Linked DNA regions of Homo sapiens. The protein of the gene in region 2 purifies or fractionates together with the protein of the main gene of each other region. This does not show direct contact. Each region holds a gene or a part of one and is shown on either strand. Other genes may lie near its edges.

What was found. The genes of interacting proteins can lie anywhere in the genome.
Region 1: the proteins of EHD3 (region 2) and FERMT2 purify together in Homo sapiens (affinity purification with mass spectrometry; one large-scale study listed by BioGRID and IntAct). This does not show direct contact.

Annotation. Positions count from the first base shown.
Region 1 is NC_000014.9:52,881,536-52,885,187, forward strand, and holds part of FERMT2 (fermitin family homolog 2), read right to left. Parts: intron 294-3,652; coding exon of another isoform or gene 261-293; intron 1-260. UniProt on the Homo sapiens protein: Scaffolding protein that enhances integrin activation mediated by TLN1 and/or TLN2, but activates integrins only weakly by itself. Binds to membranes enriched in phosphoinositides.
Region 2 is NC_000002.12:31,232,552-31,236,303, reverse strand, and holds the start of EHD3 (EH domain-containing protein 3), read right to left. Parts: upstream 2,153-3,752; 5' UTR 1,683-2,152; coding exon 1,456-1,682; intron 1-1,455. UniProt on the Homo sapiens protein: ATP- and membrane-binding protein that controls membrane reorganization/tubulation upon ATP hydrolysis. In vitro causes tubulation of endocytic membranes. Binding to phosphatidic acid induces its membrane tubulation activity.

The DNA of each region.
Region 1 (3,652 bases), on a different chromosome or scaffold from region 2:
CATATTATGATATAAAGCACATTGTGAAACAAAAGTTTTATTCTGAAAGGAAAGCTTAGTATATTATTTTACCTGTTATGAAAACATGTGTAATTAATTCTCCTTGTATAACATTAAAACACGTAATAAAGCCTTAAGAATATAATTAAGTTGGCAGAAATTCTGGGGAAAAAAAATCAGTTCAAGAGAATTAGAAAATAAGGATATAGCTGAAGCAGACAGACCAACACTTTTTGTCTTTAAATTGTGGCAAGGCTCACCTTTCAGAGGGCCAATGTAAAGAACATCAGTGCCTATAGGAAAGGAAAGAAAGGAATTCAGAAGGTAAAGGAAAGGCCACAACAGAGGACAGAAACAAAAGAATGAAAAGAAAATGAGAAAAAGAAAAAACAGATTTTCCCTAATTGTGAATCATAAACTGAAGTACACATTTCAAGTGGATTTCAGAGTAAAGAACCTTAGAAGCTACAACCTAAGTAAAACGGTTTTTTTTGTTCAATTTAAAAGAATGAAGTTGTGCTGTAGTCAAGTATATAGTGACAAATATGTCTACAACTTTTACCACCATTTGAAATCCATACAATTTGAAGGTAACACAATAGAACTGAATTCATATAGATTAAGAATAATTTTATAGTAAAGTCTTCTCAGTGAATAAACAGGTTTCAACAATTTTACAAATAAAGTTTTTTTTAATTTTTAAGTTCTGGGGTACAACAAATAAAGTATTAATGTAAAAGGGGAGATAAAAGTCTGCCCTAGAAAGAGTCTAAACAGAGATATATTTAATAGTCAAATCTCAAAAGGAAGGGATATTGCCTTATTTATCTTCTGATTTCTTAGTATTAGGGCTAGACATATAGTAGAGGTTACGTAAATAACAATTTGTTACATTAGTCAACAGATGGTATGTGCTCCTTTATTTAAACTACAAAAATTAAGGAGATGAATTTAAGGCATCTAAAAATGTTCAGAATGACATTAAGGACAAGCAGCTCCCCCAAGTCCTAGCTCTGTTAAATTATATTTTGTCCTGTTGTCATAATTTTTCAAAAGAAAATGTGCAATGGGCATAACACTGTTAATGTAAAGAAAATGGCTTTTCCATTCCCTAAATTTAGGGTTAAGCTTAGAAATCCATCTCCTTTCCTACTATTTTTAACTCTTCTCCCCATGCAATGATAGAAACACTGCCTGTGAAAAAGTGGTGCTAATGCTAGAGATTTTTGTAGCTGTCATGACCTAGTCTAGGAAGCAAAGTTAAAAAAAAAAAGTTTTTACTGAAAATATGTAATCTCTTGCTGGACACAGGATATTTGATTTTATGTCCCTGACATGTGTTCTTCCAATGTTAGTACTAAAAAAAACCTGTAAAATCTAGGCCAGGTGTGGTGGCTCACTCCTGTAATCTCAGCACTTTGGGAGGCTGAGGCGGTTGAATCACTTGAGGTCAGGAATTCGAGATCAGCCTGGCCAACATGGAGAAACCCTGTCTCTACTAAAAACACAAAAATTTGCCAGGAGTGGTGGTGCACGCTATTCGGGAGGCGAAGGCTGCAGTGAGCCAAGATTGCATCAATGCACTCCAGTCTAGGCAACAAAGCAAGACTCTATCTCAAACAAACAAACAAACAAACAAACAAAAAACCCTCTAAAATCCGAACACTGTTAATCCTAAAACACAAAGCAAAGTTGTGAACTCTTTATCAGCATTTAAAGAATACTGGGATCGTTAGTCCTGGGGCTTTAAAAGCTAGATCCTTAAACTAGACAGGTATTTTTCAAACTTAAAATTGTGTGACACCTTTTGAAAGGACTAATTGGGCACCCCACACTTATTAAATGTGCTGAACACATTACTCCAACTCAGTTGGGCAAAGGGTATTTCTGCTACAGAGTGTGCATGTAGATAAAGTGTGAAAAAACATTAACTTCTAGGCAAAGTCTTGTTTCTTTCAAAGATCTATTAAATAAATCTGTTACGAAGAATGTCAGTATACTGAAAATGTGCACCTGGTGAGATTATAATTTCTATCCAAAACTGAGTCAAGTTAGAATGGACAATTTGCTTTATAAAGTTTCTAATATAGAAAAGATACTCCCCCTAAATCACTGATATGGTTTGGATCAGTGTCCCTGCCCAAATCGCATGTCTAATTGTAATCCCCAATGTTGGAGGAGGGGCCTGGTGGGAGGTGACTGAATCACAGGGGTGGAGTTCTCATAATGGTTTTGCACCATCCCCGCTTGGTACTGTATAGTCAGTGACTTCTCATGAGATCTGGTTGTTTAAAGTGTGTGGCACCTCCCCACTCCCACCCCTACCTCCTGTTCCAGCCACGTGAAGTGCTGGCTCCTCCTCCGCCTTCCGCTGTAATTGTAAGTTTCCTGAGGCCTCCCCAGGAGCTGATGCCACCATGCTTCCTGGACAGCCTGCAGAACTGTGAGCCAATTAAACCTCTTTTCTCCTAAGTTACCAAGTCTCAGGTATTTCCTTATAGCAATTCAAGAATGAACAAATACAATCACACATTTAATAGAATCAGCCACCCACCCAAATCTGCGTTTCAACTTCCTATAGTTTGTATCTTCTTCAATTCATACTTAATCACTTCGTTGTTCTTATTTGTTCTGTAGGCACTATGTGATAATAAACTCACTTAGCGTTCACAACAACTCTATTATTCTCACTTCAGAGGAGCAAACTGAGGCAAAGCAAGGTTAAATAACTTGTCCAAGGTCAAGAGCAAGTAAGCTGCAGCCAAGCTATAAATCGGCCAGTCTGGGCAGGCGCGGTGGCTCAAGCCTGTAATCCCAGCACTTTGGGAAGCCAAGGTGGGCAGACTGCCTGAGGTCAGGAGTTCGAGACCAGCCTGGCCAACATGGTGAAACCCCGCCTCTACTAAAAATACAAAAAATTAGCCAGGCATGGTGGCAGCCTGCCTGTAATCCCAGCTACTTGGGAGGCTGAGGCAGGAGAATCACTTGAACCCGGGAGGCGGAGTTTGCAGTGAGAGACTGCACCATTGCACTCCAGCCTGGGTGACAAGAGCGAAACTCCGTCTCAAAAACAACAAACAAAAAAACCCCAGCCAGTCTGGCTGTAGGGCTACACACTGCCTCCATGTACTATAACTTACGTAAGCCATTCCCAATTGGTGTGCACCTATTTTTTAAAATTCTGTTACTGTAAGGTGGCTCATGCCTGTAATCCCAGCACTTTGGGAGGCCGAGGCAGGCAGATCACCTGAGGTCAGGAGTTCAAGACCAGCCTGGCCAACATGGTGAAACTCTGTCTCCACTAAAAATATAAAAAATAAGCTGGGTGTGGTGGTGCACGCCTATAGTCCCAGCTACTTGGGAGGCTGAGACAGGAGAATCGCTTGAACCGAGGAGGTGGAGGTTGCAGTGAGCAGAGATTGTGCCACTGCAGTCCAGCCTGGGTGACAGAATGAGACTGTGTTTCGAAAAATAAAAATAAAAAAATAAAATTCTGGCCAGGTGCGGTGGCTCATGCCTGTAATGCCCGCACTTTGAGAGGCCAAGGCGGGTGGATCACCTGAGGTTAGGAGTTTGAGACCAGCCTAGCCAACATGGTGAAACCCCGTCTCTACTAAAAATACAAAAATTAGCCAGGCATGGTGGCATGCTC
Region 2 (3,752 bases):
GCCAACAGGCCCATCACCTCCCAAACTCCTTCAGAAATCACTTGGCCTCTTAAAGCTGCTGAGCCCTAGGCTGTGCACTCCACAAGGACAAACTCAATGTGGTGTTGTGTTTAGACATGACCTATTAGCATGGTGCTACTTCCAGAAGGCTGGCGTTACAAGGTGGATGTTAGAGAAAATTAGTACCTAGAAAATTAGTAACTAGACTGTTAACTTTTCTGCACTCCTCACCAAACAAAGCACAGCATTTCACATGCTGTGGATGCTCAAACAGCCAAGGAATAGGAATAAGGGTACCCCTGCTTTCCAAACCCTCTGCAGGAGATGAGCACACTTGACTTTGGGGGGCCACCAAACTCCATTCTCAAGCTGTGGGAGCCTGAGTCTTAAGACAGAGGGCCACAGCATTCTCAACAATTTGGAATGGCTATAAAAGGGGCCAAGAAAATGGCTGGCCTTGAAGTTGGGAAGATTGAGGACTGGAGTGAAGCCTGTTCTCTAAAGATAAGAAGGGCCTCTGGTGGACTTCTCTGAATGCAGGGTGAACAAATTGACTTCTTGAGCCTCCCTCCAGCCCAAGGATTCTGTAATTGAAGGGAATGGATGACTCATTCTCAGAGTTACAGGCGTTTAGCCAAGCATCTCCTCACATGCATCTAGGACTTAACATCCCAGGTCTGCTGCCCACTCTTTAGATGGCTCTGCACAATTCATTTAACTTCTCTGCGCCTCGGTTATCTCACCTGCAAACTCAGCAACTGGATGAGACAATGCCAATATCCCTTCCATCTCTAAGCGTCTTTAATATTATTATTAAGCCATTAAGATCAAATAAGAGAAAGGGGAAAAAAAAAGCATTCTGCTTCTGGACTCAGCTTCTGTTGAGTCTCCAAGATATATACACAGGAGCTCTGCTTTAGAGAAGGAAATGATAAAAGGAGGACAAGTAGCATCCCCAGGCCACCTCCGTTCCCAGGCCCGCACCCATCAGAACTCAGCTGCAACTGTGAGGCCCCCATGTGAGTGCCAAGCCCCTTGAAAAACAAGGGAAGAGGTTTTGCCCGTGAATGATGTGTTGCTAAAAAGTGAAGACGTAAGACATCCCCACCAACATAAGGCGCTCCAGAGACCAGGAGCTCTTCCATTGTGCCTCCTGGGCCTCGGTTTCATCATCCATAAGATGGGGAGACTGGGAATGGCTTTACACTTGAATACTTCAGGTTGACCACCACAGCCAAGGGCCAAGTAGAGTGGACAGGTATTGGGTAGGATGGGAAGGGGGACCAGCAAAAATTGTGGGGTAAGATTTTGACGCCTGCACAAACACAGATCTCTTCAGAGCCCTCAACTGAAGGCTTCCCATTGGTCCCCTGTCTGGGATGGAGCACCAGGAGTGACCGGAGGGACTAGGCGCTGGGCTCCGGGGTGGGCTGCCAGGACCCTGGGCCGGCTCACCTGATGAAGGTGGTCTTCCCAGTGGAGTACTGGCCCACCAGCAGAACCATGGGCTTGTTGTCGAAGTCGGCATCCTCCAGGGCGGGCGAGTGGAACTCGTGGAAGCGGTAATGCTCTTCCAAGGGCAGCAGCTTGCTCTTGTAGAGTTTCTTGAGCCCCTCACTCACCGTCTGGAAAACCTCGGGGTCCTTCCTCCGGCGGTCGTCCGTACCCAGCCAGCTGAACATCGCGGCCGCCGCTCGCCCCCGGCACGCAGCCCCAGGGGAAGACTCCTCCTCAGGGGAAGATGTCCCGTAGGACCGGTCCGCCGGGCTCCGAGCCGCGCCGCCGCCTCACCCAAGCGCGGGGCTCAGCCGCACCATGGCCCGGGCACGCGGCTAGGAGGGCCGGGAGCGCACTCTCCCTGCTCCTGGGACCAAGCCCAGCCGCTGCTGCATCCAGCAGCCCAGGCCGGAGGGAGGATAAATAATCTGGGCTTGAGGAGGAGGGGTGAAATCTTGGCAATTAAAGTTGAACCTGCAAGGAAACTGCCAGATGCCGGGGTCCCAAGCCGGGGTCCCCGATCGGCCCCCAGCCCTCGCCTGCTCTGCCCTGCGTGCAGCAAGGGATGCTTCGGCTCCGCTCCTGCCGGACCGAGGCGGCTCAGGGGAGACGGCGACGCTGCCCAGCCCGCGGACAGCTCTGCATCCGCAGCAGCATCCTGCAGCCCCAGGCGGTGGTTTAAATGCCAGCTGGGCAGGAAGCCGGCGCGCAGAGGAAGTCCCCTAGTACTGGCAAGGCAGGGCCGGCCCCACGGTTGCGGCGACGGGAAGCCGCGCAGGGCGCCGCCATGTTTGTGGGCAGGCGCTCAGCTCTAGACCTGCGGCCGCGCGGGGAGAGGGATGCTGACCCAGTCCAGTGGGAGAGTGCCGGTGTCTCAGTCTCCGCCTCTGGGGCTTCGATTTGGGAACAGCGCCCTCTCAGGGACGGCTGCGAGGACAGAGTTGACCTATTCATCACACTCCCTGCTTTGAATCGCCTCTCCTTCAGTTGCTGAGGTCAATTCCCTAGGAAAACAGGTACTCTAGTATTGGGGGATTTTTTTTTTTTTTGGCATAGAAAGGGGATCCACTATCAGGTTACACAAAATAACCAAAACTGTCACTACCCAAACTTTTAGCTAGGCTTAGGGTGAAGTCAAAATCGTTCCCATTTACTTATTCATTCATTCCAGCAAAACAAAACAAGCCAAGAAGCAAAATCCCTGCAAGTATTGGGAATTTATTATGGGGCAGTTACAATTTTGGTGACTGTGGATACAGAGATGAGTGCTGAACAGACTCTCCCTTCCAGGAACTCCAGTGAAGGCAGGCTTTAAAGAGGAGGCATGAGCAGAGGGTCATGGGAATACAGGGAGGAGTCACTCCTTTTGTGTGGCTAATTTGAGGAAGGCTTCATGGAAAGCATGACTGTAAGCTGGATCCTAAATGATGAATTGACATCCATTGTTCTAGGAGCGTAAGGAGTATTTGCAAAGGCTTGAGGAACTTGGTGTGTCCAAGGCAGAGTAAACAGTTTGGCATAGCTGGAGTGTAGGGTTTAGGAAGGTGAAAGAGAGTGAGGGAGGCCAAGCATGAAAGGCTTTGCCAGAGATGGGGAACCAATAGCAATGCTATTACTAATCATTGTTACATTAACAAAATGCTCAGCATGTGCAGGGGCCTGGGCTAAGTTCTCAGTGAACATTGCTTTATTTAACCTTCATGGCAGATCATATTATCTCCAGCATCATACTAAGGAGAGTGAGTGGGAACACTGTCCAGGTGTAGGCAAAAGCAGTGCATCGTGTGTAGAGAATTTAAACCCAATAATAAACTTGCTGAAAGTTGATGTGCTTTGTATTGGCACCATTCTAAACAGTGTAGTGATAAAACACTCCTCCCTGCCCAGGCTAATGACTCCCACTACCCTCCCTTCCACAGATGAAGAAGGAGTAGGCTATGGACCAGGCAGGAACTGGAATGCCAAGAGCAGTGTTGGAGGGGCAAAAGAGGTTGGGGGTTGATATGGTTTTGCTTTGTGTCCCCGCATAAATCTCATCTCTAATTGTAATCCCCATAATCCCCATGCGTTTAGGGAGAGAGCTGGTGGGAGGAGATTGGATCATAGGGACAGTTTCATTCATGCTGTTCTCATGATAGTGAGTGAGTTCTCGTGAGAGCTGATGGTTTTATAAGGGGCTCTTCCCACTTGGTTCCTCATACTTCTCTCTCCTGCCGCCTTATGAAGGACGTGTTTGCTTCCCTTTATGCCATGAC